2 separate regions of the Homo sapiens genome follow, and region 2 is linked to region 1. The links come from fine-mapping of genetic effects on gene expression. A gene starts in region 1. The other region holds a variant in brackets. All regions are shown on one strand. Distances are from middle to middle.

The links.
Region 2: its variant is fine-mapped to the expression of MAN1B1 in spleen (GTEx, PIP above 0.99).

The regions. Positions count from the first base shown.
Region 1 is chr9:137,084,741-137,090,101 of GRCh38, reverse strand. MAN1B1 (mannosidase alpha class 1B member 1) reads right to left here and starts at 3,117. Exons shown (of 13, transcript NM_016219.5): 1 at 2,884-3,117; 2 at 1,919-2,027; 3 at 1,097-1,233. The coding sequence starts at 3,102. It overlaps MAN1B1-DT (MAN1B1 divergent transcript), which reads left to right and starts at 3,285. Exons shown (of 1, transcript NR_027447.1): 1 at 3,285-5,156. RefSeq lists silencers at 2,754-2,983, 3,534-3,763 and an enhancer at 2,964-3,193.
Region 2 is chr9:137,134,859-137,140,153 of GRCh38, reverse strand. GRIN1 (glutamate ionotropic receptor NMDA type subunit 1) reads right to left here and starts at 1,000. Exons shown (of 20, transcript NM_007327.4): 1 at 410-1,000. The coding sequence starts at 667. RefSeq lists a silencer at 1,163-1,457. The variant A/G (reference allele first, on the strand shown) is at 2,686.

The DNA of each region.
Region 1 (5,361 bases):
CCTGACCCATCCCCAGTCTCCACTCCCCCTGCCCTCCTCCCTGACCCCAATCTTCTCAGCCTGGTGGTGCCCAGGACTAGGCCTGGCCCCTTCTTCCAACGTTTCCAGAGGACACAAACCACCTATACCTAGGGACTCCTAAAACCTGTCTCCCCTGGCAGACTCTGATCCTGGCACCACCTGCCCACCAAGGTCTCCATGGCGCCTCCCAGACATCTCACAGTGGGCAGATCCAAAACGGAGCTCCTCAGTGTCCCCAAGCCAGAGCCTGCACAGCCTTTGCTGGCCCCTCCACCCGGGGACTCACCCTCCTTCTCCCAAGGCCCACTCCTGCGGAGCACTCCTCCCCCCACTCAGCTTTTCCCACGGCCAGGCAGCTCTCCTGGCCTCCTGCCCTCCACTGTGTCTCCACCCAGCCAGAGCAGTTTCACAGTAAACATCTCAGACCTCCAGTCCACGCCAAAATCTTCCCGCATACATCAACTGGACCCTCCATGCTGCCTCCAGGACCTGCAGGACCACAGCTGGACTGAGCCAACCCCTGCTCCCTCTCCCAGCCCTGGGAATTTCACCTTCCCGCATATGCCAAGGTCCTCCTTGCCTCAGGCAGTTTCACTCAGGCTCAAGTCTGCCTCTCCCCACCTTGCCCGGTGCCAGCAGCTTCTCAGCCCTCAGATCTTGCCCTCAGTGCCACGGCCTCCCCTGAACCCTCAGGACCAGCCACTGTTCTTCACCAGCGCCCTGCTCTTTTCCACATAGGATGTACACCATGTGCCATCTGCCTCTGCCCATCTGTGCCTGGCTTCTCACCAGCCTCTCCTACCAGCTGTGGCCTCTTGAGAGGAAACAGGTCTGTCTTATTCAACACTGCACAGTCAGAAGTAAAACCGGAACTGGCCATGGCTGGTCTTCAAAAAGAATGAAGCAAAGACTACGCCTCTCTTTCCCCAAGTATTATCCGACCAGTCCAAAACGAGAGAGAGGTAAACACGTGGTAATAAATGGTAAAGGAAAATAATTCTTCTCAATCTTCAGTGGTTTGAAATGCCTCTGGATTGAACCCCAGTTATAACCCCACACCATTTGCTCAAAGTACCTGTGACGAAATCTCAGGTAAGTTCTCAGGGTCGGTGTCCGCCTTCTGAGGAGCTGGTAAGACGGGTGGATTTGCTGGTTTTAACCCAGCAATTTCTGGCCTCATCTTCTGCTCTTCCTCTAGCCTGAAAGCCAGAGCTGAATAACAGAAGCTATTTTATTTCAAATATGCCACAAGGCCTACAAGAGATTTAAACTGCTTTATAAAAACACTTGGCAGGCACTATCCATTACAAATCAACATTATGATACCTGATAGTCACTGAAATGAATTCAACAATGTCCCAAGGGAATGAAATCTTTTTCAAAACACTTGGCAGTTTGTGTCCTTGTCCATAACACAGAACCCCACATCTTTTGCCTTCCTATTTTCCATTCAGGGACGTTCAGCATGTGGCAGGTGGGCAGGAGCCCTTTAGCTTTGCTCCAAAGAGAAGCATCTTAGACCAAGTGAGAAGAGATTCTCCACATCCTCACCAGAACTCTGCCTGGTCTTTTCCAAACACACGCTAATGAGTGCTACGAAATTTGTGTGGTTATTTAGGCTGAGTGTTCAAGCCCACCAGCTGACTTACTCTATAAGGGAGGCTGGACATATCAGTACTTACACCAGAGACCTAGAAAGTAGTCAGACAGCATCAAATTAACATCTGTGTTCTAGCCAGGTGGTTACATACAGCTCTACCTTTCTCTTTATCTTGATTTCTTGCCAATTCGTTGCCATATATGCCTCCTGGAGCTGTTTAAGGTAGAATGCAAGATTGCTTCTGCCCAATCAACCCTCAACACAGATATCGTTTTCAAGTACACGTGTTTCTGATACCTTTCCAATGGTCAGCCAAGTTGATGTAGAAGAGGAGTCCACAGAAAAGCAGAAAGGCAAGGAGGAAGAGAATCATATTCCGCTGCAATCTCGACAGTTGCTTCCATTTCTAAGGGAGGTACAGAGAATGACATTTCTTACTGAATATATCACACGGAACGTCTCAACTGTCACAAACTGTGAGGACAATAAGGAATTCTTCTGGAAGATCCAGTGTTCAGCTCTATTTCTTTTTTTTTTTGGAAACAGGGTCTCATTCTGTTACACCTAGGCTGGAGTGTAGTGGGTGGAACGCGGGATGAGCCACCGTGCCCGGCCAGCTCTATTTATTTTGAATGGGGAGAAGTTCCCTCTCAGCAGGGAGTAGGAACATTGCTGGGACAATACTACAGATGTCGTTAATACAGTGGTGCAGATGAGACGAGGATAAGAAAAAAGCAGAAACATTTCTGTCACATTTCATCAACAGTGGAGAAAGACTCCTGCGACTCCCACAGATGTAGCCCAGGCACCGCCCAGGCGATGCACAGTCCGCATGTGGTTATCAATGCCCTTCGGCCTGAGACCACCACGAACAGACCAGGAGCCAATCAAGAGGGGCTCATTTCTCACTGTACCGAGGGGAGCATACACCACGGGGAACCTCCGGTTTCCGCTCCAAGAGGGGCAGGCGCCTGGGCCAGGACCTTGCAGAAAAGCGAACGAAGCCCAGAAAACCTGCTGGGGCTCTGAGCCCTCTTCCCACCACCGCCCCGCAGAATTTGGGCCGCTGAGACCGCTGCAGGCGAGCCGCCCACGGCTGCCCCAACCAGGAACGCACATTTGCCCCTTTTTGCGGGGAAGGGGTGGAGAGGGCGGCGCCTGGGGAGTCGAGTCCGCCCGCCCAGGTCCCGCTCGGAGCCGCAGTCTGGGAGGGCGGCGGGCACGGCAGCCCCGGGCCCCAGTCAGCCCGGCGCGACCCTCACCCTCCAGCACGAGCGCCGCCGCCAACTCTTGCTGTTGTCATAGTTCTCGCCAAAGCTCAGCGTCACCGAGATGAAGTCCCGATGAGGCGGCGGCGGCGGCGGTGGGTACATGACTACAGTGGTGGCGACGGCCCAAGGGGCCCCGCCCACTGGCGGCGTCAGGAAGTCCGACTGAGAGGAACCGAGAGCTCCGCTTCTCCTGCCCTCGCAGGCAGCCATCGCAGCGCCGTCAACAGCCCGCCCATCACACGGATACGCGACTGCGCGTGCGCTGCGTCTCTATGCGGCCAGTGCGCCCGCGCCTGTCTCCGCTGCGCTCCAGCGTACGGGGCTGCGTCCTACGGCGACTGCGTCAGACAACTGCTGCGACTCCGCCCTGCCCTCAGGTTCATTGCGCATGCGTCCGGCAGCGCCTGCCCAGGTGTGCTACGAGCGTAGCTGTAGCAACGGGGCGGGCCTTGGTTCGCCTGGGGCGTGGTCGCTGTCTGGGGCTCCCACGTGGTTCGCCTCATGGGCCTGGAGCTGGGCTTCTCTCGCCTCCTGTCGTCTGGCTGCACCGACTTTGCCCACGCCCTCACGGGAGACGCAGACACTAGGGACCCGGGGAGGCGCCCGGGCGGGGCCGCCATGTTGGCAGAGAGTCCCAGCGTCCCGCGCCTCGGTTCCGGAACCCGCGGCGCGGGGATGGAGCTGGGCTGCCCTTGGGCGCCGTCCTGGGCTGGTGCCCACCCTGGCCGCGTGGTCACCGGCAAGAAGCCCAGGGCCTCACCCAGGCGTGGGGGCCGGGGGAAGGACCGGACCCTCCCGAAGTCGCGGACCAGGCCGGGCGGCACCCGGGCTGGGGTGGCTGCTACCCCGAGCTAAGCTGGCTGCGCCGCATCTCACGGTCCCCGGGGCCCGAGCGCTGCGCCTGGACCGGCGCCGAGCGAGGCGGCCAATCGGCCGGCTGGACCCACAGTCCCCGCGCCATAGGCGGGTCGGGGCTTTCAGACCCGGCTCCCAGCCCTCGAACTCGGTAACCTTGGAGGTCAGCTTGAGATGACTGCGCTTCCTGCACGCGTTGTCCTCCCCAGAAACGCCCAAAATGGCAAAGCGGCGTCCGTGGCCGCCCGAGGCCCTCCCTGCCTGGGTTCTCCCCAGCCGAACCTCACGCCCGGCCCCTCCTTCATTCTCTCCTGGCCAGGCTGCTCCTGCCCTTGGGCGAATCCGCTGCGTCCCACGGTCCTGACTGTGGCATTTCTGCGTGTCTGGAGAGCTCCCCCGGCAGCGACGTCCTGCTTAGCACGTGGCTCGTCTAACTCTGTTCCCCTGGCCTCCTGCTCTTCTAGGGGTCATCTTTAGGTTTCTGCTGGTCTCTGCCCCCTGTGACACTTGCTGGTACCCAAATGAAGTCGTTTATGTCACACTCTAACAAGAGGCCCTGAAGAAGCCCTCACAAAAACATTAGCAACGGAGCGCCTGCGGCAAACCCTTCTAACCTTTGGTCTTTATGGTTTCAAAGCAGTTTATGGGAACTTCTCTTTTTTAAAAGATTCCCCTTGGGGCCAGGCGCGGTGGCTTCTGTAATCCCAGGACTTTGGGAGGCCGAGGCAGGTGGATCACTTGAGGTCAGGAGTTCAAGACTAGCCTGGCCAACATGGTGAGACACCCGTCTCTACAAAAAACACAAAAAAATTAGCAGGGCATGGTTGGTGGCAGGCACCTGTAGTCCCAGCTACACGGGAGGCTTAGGCAGGAGAATTCCTTGAACCCAGGAGGTGGAGGTTGCAGTGAGCCGAGATGGCACCACTGCACTCCAGCCTGGGCAACAGAGCAAGACTCTGTCTCAAAAAAAAAAAAAAAAAAAAAAAAGAAATTTCCCGTGGGCGGGGCACAGTGACTCATGCCTGTAGTAATCCCAGCACTTTTGGAGGCCAAGGTGGGCAGATCCCCTGAGCTCAGGAGTCCAACCTGGGCAACATGGTGAAACCCCTGTCTCTACAAAAAATAAAAAAATGAGTCCAGTGTGGTGGTGTGCACCTGTGGTCCCAGCTACTCTGGAGGCTGAGGTGGGAAGACCACCTAAGCCCCAGGAGGTCGAGGCTGCAGTGAGCCATGATTGCACCACTGCACTCCAGCCTGGGCAACAGAGTGAGATCCAGTCTCAAAAAAAAAAAATTCCCCCTTTCCTCAATCCCCACCCCACCCCCCCACCACATGCCTGTGACCCACTGAGGCTTGCATACTCTGCATTGCAATTATGTGTTATTCTTGATTAAATTCATTTATTCTGGAGAGCCTGAGTTTCTCTTTAGGTTGACACCACTCACTCTTGTCAGTCCCTGGAGTACCCCAAGCATCCTCACGTGGTTAGCAGGGAAACCTTGGCATCTCAAGGATGCAGGTGCAGGAGAGCGAGTCTCCAGGCTGTCAGAGCTGAGCATGCAGAAGCCTGCCCTGGAGAGCGCCCCGAGGTTCCTGACCGCAGGTTGTCTCAGG
Region 2 (5,295 bases), 50 kb before region 1:
AGAACCTGGAAGCAGAAACAAAGATGGCCCCAGGCCCCGTCCTGTTTAAAGCTCTGCAGGGCGGGCATGTAGCTGGACAGGCGCTTCTACTCTCTTACCCGGAATGCCCACCCCCACACTGACACACTCCAGCCCCACGTCTACACACACCAGTCAGGGCCTGGAGCCCCAGGGGCCCTCTGAGGACCAGCCAAGGTGGCAGGTGACTGGTCTCAGGCCAAGATAGGGGAGCCAGCAGACCCTGGTGTTTGGTTCCTAGTGAGACGAGGCCTCCCGGAAGCAGCCAGCTGACTCTGGGGTGGTGTCTTACAGGGAGGAAGGGGGCACGGAAAGGATGGAATGAAACTGGGGGTGTGGGGTTGCAGGATGGAGGAGAGGGGAGGTGGGTGGCGGAGGTGGGGGAGGGCACCTGGCTGGAGATGAGGTCCTCGCACACCGACAGAGCCATCTGGATGGCGTTGGGCTTGTGCGTGACGGAGGTGGCATTGAGCTGAATCTTCCAGGAGCCGTGCCGCTTGTTGGCCTGGTTCACGGCCTCGCGGAACATCTGCTCGTGCTTCCGCGTGCTCAGCACCGCGCCAATGTTGACGATCTTGGGGTCGCACGCGGCACGGGCGACGGAGCAGGAGAACAGCAGGGCGAGCGTCAGCAGGCGCATGGTGCTCATGGGCTCGGGCCGCGGGCCTGGCTCTGCGCGGCGCGAACGCGGGGCCCTCGGCGCATCCCCCGCGGGGCTTCCGGGCCGTCCTGCGCTCGCCCGGCCCCGCGGGCTGCGGACGCCACGTCTCCCCCGGAGCGGCGGTCCCGGGACGTCGGCCGAGGGAAGGGGCGCTGAAGCGTGCGCGGGGGCTCGGGGCTCAGCCCCACGCGGCCGGCGCTGTCCGCGGTGCTGAAGCGGGGCCGGGCACAGCTCCGAGCGCCCGGCTTGGAAAGGGCCCGGCGGCGGCGGCGGCGGCTCCGCGGACGGCGCTGGTTCCGGTCCGGACGCTGCGGCGACTGCAGCAGCTGCAGAAACGCGAGCGGGGCCAACGTCTCCTGCCCCTCCCGCCGCCCCCGCTTCCCAACACGGAGGCGAAGGGGGCGCCTCCCGCGCCAGAGCGTGCGCCTGCGTTCGCGTGAGCGTGTGTGTCGGAGCGCGCGTGAGCCGGGGAGCGCGCGTGTGCGTGTGAGCGCGTGCCTGGAGGGGTCCTGGGACAGGGGCCTGTGCTGTCGGGGACCTGCAGGGAGCTCAGTTTGGAAACGTTAGAGGGGTCCGTGTCACCGCGTGCAGCCCGCACCCTTGCGTGCCTTTTAATAGGACCGAACGCGTCGTGCCCGCTTGTATGTGTGTGTGCGCGCAAGAGTCGTCACCCACAGTCAGCGATATTTCGGCTCCTGACTCTTGCAGACTGGAGCTCCAGAGGGGTGGGGGAGGCCCTAAGCCATGGCTCTGGGGGGCGCTCCCTTCAAGGTTCCCCTCCCCACAAGGTTCAGAAATGAGGGAGAGGCCCCATCTGCGTGGCCATGTAACTTGGGACCCCCCTCCTCGGGCTAAGAGGAATAGGGAGGGTGACCGTGGCTGCCGCATGTGCTCAGCCAGGCCTTCCGCGAGAGCCTGGAAACTGGACCCGCACTGACTGGGGCTGAGGTCGGACACCAGGAATCACTGGAGCGCCGCGAGGTGTGTTCGGGGCCAGCCGTTTCACACCCTCAGCTTCCGCTCCTCTCTCCCTCTCCAGCCCCCTCGCAATGCGCTCCCAGCGCCCCCTTTTCCAGAGCCTTACCCATCCCTCTGGTCCACACCACCCTGTCTTTGTCCCCCTCCACCCCTGGAGTGTGCGTGCCCCTCCCTAACTTGAAGGATGGCTGAAGCTCCGCCCCTGCCAGTGATGTCACCATTTCCAATAGCAACTGAGGATTCTGCAGACCTAACAGCAAACGCCCCCAATGGGACAAAACAGGGTCGTCACCACACCTCTGCTATGTGCAGCAGTGCAGCAAGGGAAGTCATGTGCCCACAGGGGTCACACTCTCTCTCCCGCTTGCCGTTCTCTCCATCAGCCGAACACTGGCACCAGGGACCCCCTGGAGCTGAGAGGAGGGGGAGGGGCTGTGGTGTTTGACAAGCTCCTCCTCTTGGCCCCTTCTCTCTCAATACAGGAAAATCTTTCCTTGGGGGATCACCTGCCCGTACCCTGCTGCAGACCCCGCCTCTCCCCGTTCGGGTTGAGGCACACGGGTCATCCGCCTCGGGGCCCTCACTCCTTCTGTTGGCTCTCAGGAGGGTGTGTGTGGGTGCTCAGGGGGACTGAGCTGGCCCTATCTCCAGGAGTTTGTGGCCCATCTCCAAACTTCCACCTCGGCAGGGCACAGTGGCTCATGCCTGTAATCTCAATACTTTGGGAGGCAAGGGCAGGTGGATCACCTAAGGTCAGGAGTTCGAGACCAGCCTGGCCAACATGGTGAAACCCTGTCTCTACTAAAAATACAAAAATTAGCCGGGCGTGGCGGCAGGCATTTGTAATCCCAGCTACTTGGGAGACTGAGGCAGGAGAATCGCTTGAATCTGGGAGGCGGATGTTGCAGTGAGCCAAGATCGCACCATTGCACTCCAGCCCGGGCGACAGAGCAACACTCCATCAAAAAAAAGAAAAAAAAAAGTATCCGCCTCAGGCAGGCCAGAGCCTGGCAGCTGCGTGGGGGTAG[A/G]CCTGAGCCCAGACAGCGCCTCATCAGCGTGGAAGAAAGGGGTTGGAGGCTGCAGCAGAGGCCCTGGCTCCACCCACCCACCCCCACCCCGTGGGGTGCTGGAGCGACTCCCGCTGACCCTGGAGAGCTGATCGCTAAATGTTCAGACACCTGCCAGCAGCTGTTACAGTCAGGCTTCGAAATTGGCCACAGTGGGATTATCTCTGCTGCCACGGAATCATCAAACCCCACAAACCAGGGCTTTTTCTTTTCTACTCAGGGAGCTGGTCTGCCAGTGGGTCACTGCCCCACCGGACCGTATGTGCGTCCCCAAGCTTCTGTTCAAGACCCCTTGGCAGGTTGTCCATGATGGAGATGGGGTGGAGGCCGCGTCTCCAGGCCACAGCTCCTCCTGTGAGCGAGTCTTTCCTGGATTCTGCTCTGCATTTTCCCCCCGTGGGCTTCTTCCACAACCATGAGGGAGGGGGCAGTGGTACCACAACAGATGAGCCTGGACTCGGACCCCTCTGAGACCTGGTGAGACAAAGGCTGTGGGGAGGACCAGAGACCTGGGGCACTGCCCTGGGATGGGCCCGGGGCCAGCAGTCAGGCGCTGGGTGGGGAGGGAAGCGCTGTTCTACCCCGGGCCACTGTGGGACAGTCTCCCTCTGTGGAGATCCCCTTGCCCACTCTGACAGCTGCGGCCCCGGCGGGAGGCGGCTGCTCCTCCCTGACCCCAGCCTCGCGGTTCTAGTCAGGGCTGTCAACCCGGGTGCAGACGCGCCCTGGCCTCAGTCCATTGGCCGAGGGGTTGCCAATCAGGGCTCTCCCTAGGATTTTGGGCAGATCAGAAGCAGGGAAGGGACCCCGGCTCTACATCCTCTGCAGGTGAATCCCTGAGAACTGGGGCTCAAGAGCCACCTGCAGACACATTTCTGTCGAGAGGAAGCCTGCTTGAGAGGAGGAGGCAGACAGACAGGGGTGGGGCGGGCAGAAGCGTCTCCACCCATCGCAGCCAAGGCCGGCCAAGGGCGTGGAGGACAGGCCTGCTTCCCGTGCCAGCTCCTGGAGGGGCTGCCAGGCCACGCAGGGGAAACGGAGCTGGCCATCTCGGGCCTGGCCCCCGCTAAAGAGCTAGACTGGGGTCAGGACCTCTGCCCTGACCTGGGGGAGCCCAGGGACCCTCACAGAGGTATAGTCTCTGACACCCACGAGGCTTTCCCGCCAGCCCTTGTGCTGGACTGGCTCCCATACCTTCCTGCCTCCACAAAGTCCCTCCTCTCTCCCTGTCCTGACTTTCCAAATTCCACCTTTCCTGGTAGCCGTCTTCCCCATCACAGGATCCCCACAGATCCGACCGCAGGCAGCACCGCACCGCACGTTTACTCCACTAGGCACATTCACTGAGCACCTACCGTGTACCAGACGCTGTTCTAAGGGTGGGTATGTGGCAGTGCAAAGGCTGGACTTTCTGACTTCATGGAGCACAAACACATGAGCTCCTGAGACCATTCCACGTAGCGGCGCGTGGTCTCAAGAAACAGAATGCAGAATAAAAGGCAGAGTGTGGTGGAGCCGGTGGTGCTTTGAACACCACCCTGTTCGGCAGAAGATTGATTTCCCTCCAGGCATACATGGCCTGCACTTACAAATGGAACGTGGTAGAGGTAATGGTGCGTGACTCCCAGGTGAGGTCTAGAAAGAACACCTCCCAGCCGGGCGCGGCGGCTCCCACCTGTCATCCCAGCACTTTGGGAGGCCGAGATGGGAGGATCACCTGAGGTCAGGAGTTCGAGACCAGCCTGACCAACATGGTAAGACCCTGTCTCTACTAAAAATAAAAATAATATATATATATATATATTTTTTTTTGAGACAGAGTCTCACTCTGTTGCCCAGGCTGGAGTGCAGTGCTGCAATCTCGGCTCACTGCAAGCTCTGCTTCCTGGGTTCACGCCATTCTCCTTCCTCAGCCTCCCGAGTAGCTGGGACTATAGGCGCCCACCATCATGCCCGGCTAATTTTTGTATTTTTAGTGGAGACAGGGTTTCACCATATTGGCCAGGCTGGTCTCTTGGCCAGGCTGGTCTCGAACTCCTGACCTCATAATCCACCCCCCCCCCCGCCCCCGGCCTCCCAAAGTGCTGGGATTTCAGGCATGAGTCACCACACGCGGCCACAATATTGAATCTTCTAATCTGTGAACATAGGATCACTCCCCATTTTTTTAGGCTGTCTTTGCTTTCTCTCAGCAATGTTTTGTAGATTTTAATGTACAAGGTTTGCATTTATTTTCTTAATTTTAATCTAAAGTATTTTATTTTTCTATGCAATTGTGAATGAAGCTGTCTTCTTAATTTTATTTTCAGACCATTTATTGTTAATAAGTATAAATAAAATTGACAGTGAATGCAGGTCTTCTGGTCCTCCCTGTGATCTTTATGAACTTGTTCGTTAGTTGTTACTTCTGCTAGCTTGTTGTTGCTGCTCTTGATTCCTTAGCATTCCTGTTCCTGACTGGATTTTTTTTTTTTTTTTTAGACAGGATCTCACCCTGTCACCCAAGCTGGAGTGCAGTGGTGCAATCTTGGCTCACTGCAACCTCCACCTCCCGGGTTCGAGTGATTCTCC